Homo sapiens: one gene and its partner. The protein of the gene in region 1 binds, or shares a complex with, the protein of each later gene. Each region holds a gene or a part of one and is shown on either strand. Other genes may lie near its edges. The genes, in order: PSME4 and PSMB9.

The links.
Region 2: PSME4 (region 1) and PSMB9 share a complex: the UniProt entries of both Homo sapiens proteins name them as parts of the spermatoproteasome.

The regions. Positions count from the first base shown.
Region 1 is NC_000002.12:53,863,473-53,870,207, reverse strand, and holds the end of PSME4 (proteasome activator complex subunit 4), read left to right. Parts: intron 1-669; coding exon 670-832; intron 833-3,327; coding exon 3,328-3,461; intron 3,462-3,984; coding exon 3,985-4,119; 3' UTR 4,120-4,123; intron 4,124-4,634; 3' UTR 4,635-6,139; downstream 6,140-6,735. UniProt on the Homo sapiens protein: Associated component of the proteasome that specifically recognizes acetylated histones and promotes ATP- and ubiquitin-independent degradation of core histones during spermatogenesis and DNA damage response.
Region 2 is NC_000006.12:32,856,882-32,860,351, forward strand, and holds the end of PSMB9 (proteasome subunit beta type-9 precursor), read left to right. Parts: intron 1-381; coding exon 382-513; intron 514-1,123; coding exon 1,124-1,253; intron 1,254-1,482; coding exon 1,483-1,624; intron 1,625-2,523; coding exon 2,524-2,651; 3' UTR 2,652-2,970; downstream 2,971-3,470. UniProt on the Homo sapiens protein: The proteasome is a multicatalytic proteinase complex which is characterized by its ability to cleave peptides with Arg, Phe, Tyr, Leu, and Glu adjacent to the leaving group at neutral or slightly basic pH.

The DNA of each region.
Region 1 (6,735 bases):
AGAGCAAAACATCTGTTTTTTAAAATTATCATTGTGTATTATGAATATTAAACAAATGTTTGTGATTTATATGTGAAACAATGTCTTTTTACCGCTTTTTTGTTTTCCCAAAAGTTGAGTTACCATTCCAATTTGAAATGGACTGTGTACACGCTTCATTTAGTACTTTTGTAAACTGTGTTTGTGATCTGACAGCAGCCTGTGAAATTCATAAGAATCACATAGGATGTAAGTCTCCATGATGTATGCCAATTACAGAAATTAGGTTGGTCTGTGTCTTTGTTACTAACAAAAATAGCTATAGCAGTGGCCTTCAGAGATGTAGAGTCTGGAAAAACTTGATCTTAATGTCAGGTTCTGGCACTGCTTTTACAGTTATAGCCCTGATGAGAGCTATCAGTAGGGAAAATAATTTATGGAGAAATTTAATTTTGCTAAAAGAGATAAAAGTTTATGCTCATAACCCTAATGTAGTTTTTATCCATTATGAGGCCACAAACTCTTTGAGAATCTGCTGAAATCTCTATTAAGAAACTGCCAAAGAGCATACACAAAATTTGCATGCAATTTCAGGGAAGGTCTTCACCCCAGTTCCCACACTACCCCCTATCCTCCATTATTCCCTCAGACTTAGAATGTCAGTCCTAATAGAAATTATTATATCTACAGGTTCGAGAAATGGCTGCTACTACCTTAAGCGGTCTGCTACAGTGTAACTTTCTTACCATGGACAGTCCTATGCAGATTCATTTTGAGCAACTTTGCAAAACAAAACTACCTAAGAAAAGAAAGCGAGACCCTGGTTCTGTAGGAGATACCATTCCTTCTGCAGGTAACATTGCTGGTAGGAAACACCTGTATCCTATTGGGAATTAATGAGGGTTAACCAGGCTTACTCATATTTATTGAATAACTTGTATGTATGTGCCCAGGTCTATGCTAGGTATTGGGAAAAGTTTTCCCTACTTTTGAGGAGTTTTGCATATAGAAAGCAGGACTTGGAATGTAGAAAAGCTAAAATTGAGGTAGATAGAAAGGAACCTGTAGAACTGCTACCTAACAACTATTGTATTCAGTCTACCCTCCGCCCAGAATAGCTTCATAAAAAAGAGATATTCAGAATTAGTTATTTTGGAGGGTCTGAAAAACCTGTTTTGGAATTTAGAACTTAAATGTAGATGTACTAACAGAAAAAACTAAAGCAAGCCTTGTTTTTTATTTGGAGAGGGGATTATTCGGTCCTTCATTAGTCCTTTGGTGAGAGGGTGCGGAGTCATTGCAGGAGCTTCCAATCTAATTGAATATAGACACAAGATAAACACGAGAATAAGATCTGACTACTATGTCATGTTTAAAAAGAAATGTAAATGTGATTACAAAGATGCATCTTGCCATGTTAACTGTAATCATAATAGAAAATACATAAAAAGATTAATAGTAAGTAGGAATTTTATTGAATTTAGAGGAAGTGCTTAAATATAAAGCTTTTACTGCTGATTAGTGTCTTAATTATGTCATAAAGTTACCTAGTAACAGAATCCAATAAAATATCAATGTACATTCTAGTATCTTTGCTTTTTGGGATATATATATGTATGTATATATATTATATATATATTATAAATATATTTTATAATATATATTATATATATTATAAATATATTTATAATATATATTATATATATTATAAATATATTTTATAATATATATCATATATATATATATTATAAATATATTTTATAATATATATTTTTTGGAAACAGGATCTTCCACTGTCACCCAGGCTGGAGTGCAGTGGCATGATCTCAGCCCCCTGCAACCTCCACCTCCTGGGTTCAGGCGATTCTCATGCCCCTGTTAGCCGAGTAGCTAGGATTGCAGGCGCGCGCTACTACACCTGGCTAATTTTTTGTATTTTTAGTAGAGTTTCACCATGTTGATCAGGCTGGTCTTGAACTCCTGACCTCAAGTGATCCACCCACCTGGGCCTTCTAGAATACTGGGATTACAGACGTGAGCCACAGCACCTGGCCTGAGAACTCTGTTTTTTTAATGATAAAGCACCAAAGTATTTTTAGGTCTTTTGTTACACCAAATGATATTGTTCACAATTTTGACCAGTCCAAATTCTCTTTTCCTTACCTTCAACTCCCTATTTTCCATGTGTCACAAATACAAATGTAATATGCTTTAAAACATGTGAATACACACACCTTTATTGAGGAACTGAGAATTTGAAACCACTTACACCACTACAGAACTAACTTACACTACTACAGAAAGAATAGAGACTCTTTAGAATACAGACATGCTGCAATTCTCTGTTTTAAGAAATAGACATTCTTCATACATGATGTGTTTACTAATGAATTGATGTATTCTGGGTAGGGGCGTCACATCCAGAAAAAAAAAACCACGCTAATTTTGATTGGAGATTGTTTTAGAATCAGGGATTGTACTGGCCTAGGTACAATTATGCTGTCATTGATAAGCAACTATGGAAGTCTTTAAAAATCCTTTTTTTTTTTTTTTTTTTTTGAGGTAAGGTCTTCCTCTATCGCCCTCCTTGGAGTGCAGTGGTTTTGAATATGGCTCACTGCAGCCTTGACCTCCCAGGCTCAAGCGATCCTCCTGCCTCAGCCTCTTGTCTAGCTGGAACCACAGGCATGCACTGCCATGCCTAGCTTTTTTTTTTTTTTTTTTTTCCTTGAGACGGAGCCTCACTCTGTATCCCAGGCTGGAGTACAGTGGTGCGATCTTGGCTCACTGCAGCCTCTGCTTCCCTGGTCAAATGATTCTCATGCCTCAGCTTCTGGGTATCTGTGACTTCACATGCCATCACACCCAGCTAATTTTTGTATTTTTAGCAGAGACAGGGTTTCGCCACGTTGGCCAAGCTGTTCTTGAACTCCTGACCTCAGGTCATCCACCCGCCCTGGTCTCTCAGTGTGCTGGGATTATAGGCATGAACCACCATGCCTGGCCACCAGCTGATTTTTAAAAATTATTTTTGGAGAGACAGGTTCTCACTTTATTGCCCTGGCTGGTCTCAAATTCCTGGCCTCAAGTGATCCTCCTACCTTGGCCTCCCAAAGTGCTGGGATTACAGGTATGAGCCACTGTGCCCAGCTGACAAATTCTTAAATACAGAATTATTTTTAGTTTAGCCTCAAAATCAAGTATTTGATGTGTTTACATGTAGATTCATTTTAAATGCAGAAATTCACATATTGAAAACAACACAATTGAAAACTAATTTTATCTCACTGTAACAAGTGCATTAGAGACATATATATATTTGCACAAATGTTGCTATTCTCTTTGCAGAGTTGGTCAAACGCCATGCTGGGGTGCTAGGACTTGGTGCATGTGTTCTTTCTAGTCCTTACGATGTTCCCACCTGGATGCCCCAGCTCCTCATGAATCTCAGTGCACATCTAAATGATCCTCAGCCTATTGAGGTACAGTTCTTCCTTATTAGTTTGTACGTGTATTATCAGTGATGTTTTCTAAGAAACCATAATAATAATTTCCTATACACTCTGAACTAACTGCTTTCATAAAGCTGCTGCCTCTGCCAAGGCTTAGTCTGCTCACCAGTAATTATTAAAAAATTACAGAGACCTTGCTGCCATGGATATTTGAGATCTTTTGGTAGTGAGGAAATTATTGTAGCTTCTATCCCTCCCAGTCCAATGGAAGTAAAGTACTGTCAATATTGTTGTGATAAATTTTATGTTTCTATTTTTCTAGCACTGCAAAGTATTTTACTGGAAGCTAATATTAAATAGGAAATTATGATGGCATTTTTAGTAACTCAAAAGACCATTCACTTTGTCCTTCTCATTGGCTTTTTGGTTTTGTAGAACTTGGTATTGTGTGAGATCTGAAGTCTAGAGGGACGGTAATTTAACTAAAAGTATCCTACATATGATCCTGGTTGTCCAGAGAGGTTAAAACGTATGTGGGTTGTCTACTTTACAGATGACTGTAAAAAAAACCTTATCCAATTTCCGAAGGACTCACCATGACAACTGGCAGGAACATAAACAGCAATTCACTGATGACCAACTGCTTGTTCTCACCGATCTTCTTGTGTCACCATGCTATTATGCATAGAAAGGTAAGTCAGCAAAGTTCTGAATTTACATTGGTTTGGTGACTGAGAACTAGATATTTATTGTTTTTTTTCTTTTTGCTGACATTCTTAGATGTCAGTGTTTAGATAAAGTTGGATGGCGGGGATTGTTTGTTTTTAAACATGGCTTTTGCTACGGCCATTGGAAATGAGAATTTTGCTGTGCCTCCTTGCTTTAGGTTTAAAGCAGAGAAAATGTGTGACTGCTTTTGGACCTTTGTAGATGAGTGGTGTCAGCCTGGGAATAGTTAGATAAAGGAAAATACATCTTATTCTTGGTTGCCTCCTGGGTGGGGCTGGGACATTTTGTGTGGCCCTGAGGACTCTGGGTTCTAAAAGTTGTGAGAACTTGATCTGGATTCTTACACCCATTCTGTTAAAGAGGGAGTACCCAGAAGCCTTTCTACTGGAATAGGAAGAATAAAAATTTCATTTATTAGGCTTTTAGAGTTGGATGTCTTGTTACCTAATTGAAATTTTTTCCTCCCTGATACAGATGACTAGTCCTCACTTCAGGCTCTTTTCATCAAAAATTCCACACCCTCAGGTACCATCTGTGGTGGCTCTCTGCAAGTTTTAAAACTGCCTCTGCTGAGCTCTCATCATTTTGGTGGTTTCTGTGTTAGATCTCGTTAGTCTGCATTCCACAGCTTCTCAGTTGCCATTTGATTTCCCAACTTGTCCGGAAGTGTTTCCAGAATACTGATCACTTTTTTTTTTTGAGGCATCTGACAAAGTCACAAAGTCTCAGACTAGAAATAATTACCCAGTATGATCATGGCATCCAAGACCAGAGTCTCAGAACTCATTAAGAAACAGTTTACTTGGAATGGAGAATACCCATCTGTAATACAGGTCCTGTCATTTCATTCATCTCAAATTATTTTGAATTCTTCCCAAATGGCTGCTGGATTTAGGTGGTAATAGGGGCTGTGGGCCATAAATCTGAAGCCTTGAGAACCTTGGGTCTGGAGAGCCATGAAGAGGGAAGGAAAAGAGGGCAAGTCCTGAACCTAACCAATGACCTGATGGATTGCTCGACCAAGACACAGAAGTGAAGTCTGTGTCTGTGCACTTCCCACAGACTGGAGTTTTTGGTGCTGAATAGAGCCAGTTGCTAAAAAATTGGGGGTTTGGTGAAGAAATCTGATTGTTGTGTGTATTCAATGTGTGATTTTAAAAATAAACAGCAACAACAATAAAAACCCTGACTGGCTGTTTTTTCCCTGTATTCTTTACAACTATTTTTTGACCCTCTGAAAATTATTATACTTCACCTAAATGGAAGACTGCTGTGTTTGTGGAAATTTTGTAATTTTTTAATTTATTTTATTCTCTCTCCCTTTTTATTTTGCCTGCAGAATCGTTGAGAGACTAATAAGGCTTAATATTTAATTGATTTGTTTAATATGTTATATAAATGTAAAAGAGTGTATAAACTGTAGAGATAGCATTGGCAAGACATTGTACAGATGCAACCTTTTACACAACATCATTGTGTAATTTGTAAAGATTCACGTGTAGTTCTTTATTATAGTGATTTTGGGCTTTGTACCCACTGAATGCCATTTTTTGTGTTTTTAAATTATTTTCTTTATCTTGTTACAAAAACTGAGATGTGGGGTTTTTTTTTTTTCAGTTCACTTATCATTAGAATGTCTGAACTTTTATGTAACATTTTTGTGTGCATCTCTCAATGCTAACACCACATGTTTGCCTATGACAAGTTTATAGAGTGAAAGGTATCTTCTGGGTTGAAATAATTCACAAATTGGTGAATGTCATCTTGCAACACACCCTGTACAGTCTTCCTTAAAGGAACACTACAGTATATTTTTAGTATCTACATGCTGAATGACTGAATACAGACCTAAGCACAGCAGTGGTCCTGGTACAGTATTTAAGTGTCGGCATACACAGGCGTAATCCCTGTATAAAGTAGTGCCAAACTGATTTCAGTTGTGTAACTAGTTTAAAACCCAATAAATGGATTCTTTTTAACACCTGGCTTTTGTCTTCATTAAGAGGAGAAGACAGTTCTGTAGGCAGTGACTCCTGTGGATTTCCTTTTGCAGCCATAGATTTGTATCTGTAAATGTATGTCCTCTGACCAGTATAAATTATCTGGATCTGCCCTGTACAATACAGTAGCTACTAGCCATATCTGACTATTTATATTTAATTAAATAAAAAATGTATTCCCTCAGTCTCACCGGCATATTTTAAATACTCTTGAGCCACATGTGGCTAGTGGTTACCACACTGAATAATATCGATGAACTTTTCCATCATCACAGAAAGTTCACCTAGCACTGACCTAGGTGATTGATTGTTTTTGTGTGGAGGTGTGGGAGACAGAGTTTTGCTCTGTCATCCAGGCTGGAGTGCAATGGCACAATCTTGGCTTACTGCAACCTCTGCCTCCCATGTTCCCATGAGGAATGCTCATGCCTTAGCCTCCAGAATAGCTGGGACTATAGGCATGCACCACCACGCCCGGCTGATTTTTGTATTTTAGTAGAGACAGTTTCACCATGTTGCCCAGGCTGGGGTCAAACTCCTGAGCTCAGGCAGTCCACCTGCATCGGACTCCCAAA
Region 2 (3,470 bases), on another chromosome or scaffold:
GACATTGAATGATCACCCTCAAAAATTCCTGAGTTCTGGTTGGGTGCAGTGGCTCACATCTATAATCTCAGCACTTTGGGATGCCGAGGTGGGCAGATATTTGAGGTCAGGAGTTTGAGACCAGCCTGGCCAACATGTTGGGACCTTGTCTCTACTGAAAATACAAACATTAGCTGGGCTTGGTGGTGGGTGCCTGTAATCCCAGCTATTCGGGAGGCTGAGGCAGGAGAATCACTTGAACCAGGGAGGCGAAGTTTGCAGTGAGCCCAAGATTGATCCACTGCACTCCAGCCTGGGTGACAGAGTGAGACTGTCTCAAAAAAAAAAAAAAAAAAAAAAACCTGAGTTTTAACTTGGTGACTGTTGACTCCCTCCTGACAGCGAGGCGGTGGTGAACCGAGTGTTTGACAAGCTGTCCCCGCTGCACGAGCGCATCTACTGTGCACTCTCTGGTTCAGCTGCTGATGCCCAAGCCGTGGCCGACATGGCCGCCTACCAGCTGGAGCTCCATGGGTATGAAGCTCTGGAGTTCTGACTCCCCACCCACTAGAGCTCCCCCAACCTGCATGAATCCCTGTACAGTGTGCTGTTCCAGGAGCTGGACACTGGGAAATGGAAAAGTCTTGTTTCGGCTCTTGCTGGCACTTGAATCTGTCAGTTTCTGCATCTGTAAAGTGGAGATAATATAGTACCTCATGAGACGGTTATTTTGAGAACCACATTCTATATGTGAACACAGTTTAAAAGCTGTAAATCACTATCCTGATATAAATAATCAGGAAGAAGGTGATATTGTGACCCACCATAATATCAGGCAGTTACCATACGAGAAATCAAGGTCGTTGGGACGGAAGTAACCTTATCTGCTTTTCCCCATAAGAGCAGGGTCCTTGCAGCCAAAAGAAAGTTATGTGGGTGGGGCTGAGCAAAAGAGTGAGCAATTGAAAGCTTCTTACCAGTTGGTGGTGTGGGACTCTGGTTCCCCTGTACATGTGGGAGGGAGGCTGCAGTTTGAGCTATTGCAGTTACAGTTTTCAGGGGTCGTTTAGCAGGGATGATGGTAACAGTATAGGAGAATGAGACTTAAAATTCTATCAACCTTTATTCCTAATATTTCCCTCAGGATAGAACTGGAGGAACCTCCACTTGTTTTGGCTGCTGCAAATGTGGTGAGAAATATCAGCTATAAATATCGAGAGGACTTGTCTGCACATCTCATGGTAGCTGGCTGGGACCAACGTGAAGGAGGTCAGGTGAGTTTCTCCCAAAGCACTCTCTCCTCTGGGCTTCCCCACTCTCCTGCAGAGGAAGATGGAAGTCCTATGTCATTCTAGCAATGAGTTCCAAGGACACTACCTCTGAAAGCATAGTACTTTGGGGATATGAGATACCAGGGCTTCATTGCAGGGTGCAGAGACCACTTAATGTCTCAGTGGGAAGGAAGGGCTTGATGATTCTTTAACCTGAGGATCCCTTTCCCAGGTATATGGAACCCTGGGAGGAATGCTGACTCGACAGCCTTTTGCCATTGGTGGCTCCGGCAGCACCTTTATCTATGGTTATGTGGATGCAGCATATAAGCCAGGCATGTCTCCCGAGGAGTGCAGGCGCTTCACCACAGACGGTAACCAGCCAAGTGGAAGGGTACCTGGGGAGGGCTTTGAAACATGGGAAGGAAGTAGATTATGAGGAACAGGAAGAGAAATACAGGGGTGGCCATTTAAGTTAATGCCGGGCCTGGTACACTTTTAAGAGTGAAAAGGGGCAGGACAAATGCAAAGCTCAATGGGGTTCTTGGGCAATACGGATAAACCAGGGCTGTTCTGAGTAAATCAAATGAGGATACACAGTCACTGTGAGAACCAGTGGTGTGCTAAGCACAGTGGCTCACACCTGTAATGCCAACAATTTGGGAGGCTGAGGCAGGAGGATTACTTGAGCCCAGGAGTTTGAGGCCAGCCTAGGCAAGATGGTGAAACCCTGTCTCCACAAAAAACAATAAAAAAAAGTAAAAAAAAAAATGAACTGGGCATAGTGGTGCACACCTGTAGTCCCAGCTACTCAGGAGGCTGAGGTGGAAAGATCATCTGAGCCGGGGAGATCAAGGCTGTAGTGAGCGGTGATTGCACCACTGCGCTGCAGCCTAGGTGACAGAGAGAGACCCTGTCTGGAGAAAAAAAAAAAAAAAAAGAACCAGTGGTGTGCTGAGGTGTGCTGAGGCTGGCTTGGGACCACTCATGAGAGCGGACTGTTAAATAGTCAAGGATTTGTGAACTGCTTAGCTATTTGTAACTTGCAATTCATCATAGCGGGAGCATTTACACCACGGACATCAGCAGATGCCACATATGGAAGCCTTTTTGTAAAAAAACTGATTTACCAGCACACCACTAAATATGCCTTCCTGGAAGATGAGTTTTGAGGTGAAAGTGGTAGTAGGCATATGGATGGAGGGGGAGTAAAAAGATTTTTGAAGCTAAGCCATCCTCTCTCTCCCTCTCTCCAACTTGAAACCCTCTGCAGCTATTGCTCTGGCCATGAGCCGGGATGGCTCAAGCGGGGGTGTCATCTACCTGGTCACTATTACAGCTGCCGGTGTGGACCATCGAGTCATCTTGGGCAATGAACTGCCAAAATTCTATGATGAGTGAACCTTCCCCAGACTTCTCTTTCTTATTTTGTAATAAACTCTCTAGGGCCAAAACCTGGTATGGTCATTGGGAAATGAGTGCTCAGGGAGATGGAGCTTAGGGGAGGTGGGTGCTTCCCTCCTAGATGTCAGCATACACTCTTTCTTCTTTTGTCCCAGGTCTAAAACATCTTTCCTAGAGAAAACAAAAGGGACTAAACTAGAAATATAAAGAGCCCTATACATGACAGGTGATCACGTACTGAATGATTTTGAAGTAGTACAAACAATAAAAATTCTCATTCCGCATCATCATGCGGTCCATGATGATGAGGCCGCAAGTGAGGTGATGGGACTCTTTCCTTTAAGGCTAAGACTGACAGATAGGCAAGACACCTACACACATGAGAATTAGCTAAGACTATCAGCAAACTCGCATGTAAAAGAATTCCTTTCATAATGCATTCATTCATATTAAAGGGCAATACATGAAAAATGCTTAAATATTTTGGGGCACTTGTGAATTTCAAAGAATAATGACAATAACCAAAAGAAGCTACATTTGTGGCATTGGCTAAATGTTTTATAAATTTTATCTCTTAAAATTCAAACCAAAAAACCCCCTGTATTCACACCTGTAATCCCAGCACTTTGGGAGGTCAAGGCGGGAGGATTGCTTGAGCCCAGGAGTTAGTGACCAGCCTGGGCAACATAGTGAGAACCCCATCTCTACAAAAAAATTTAAAAATTAGTCGGGTGCGGTGGTGCATGCCTGTAGTCCCAGCTGCCTGGGAGGCTGAGTGGGAGGATCGCTTAGGCCTGGGAGTTTGAGGCTACAGTG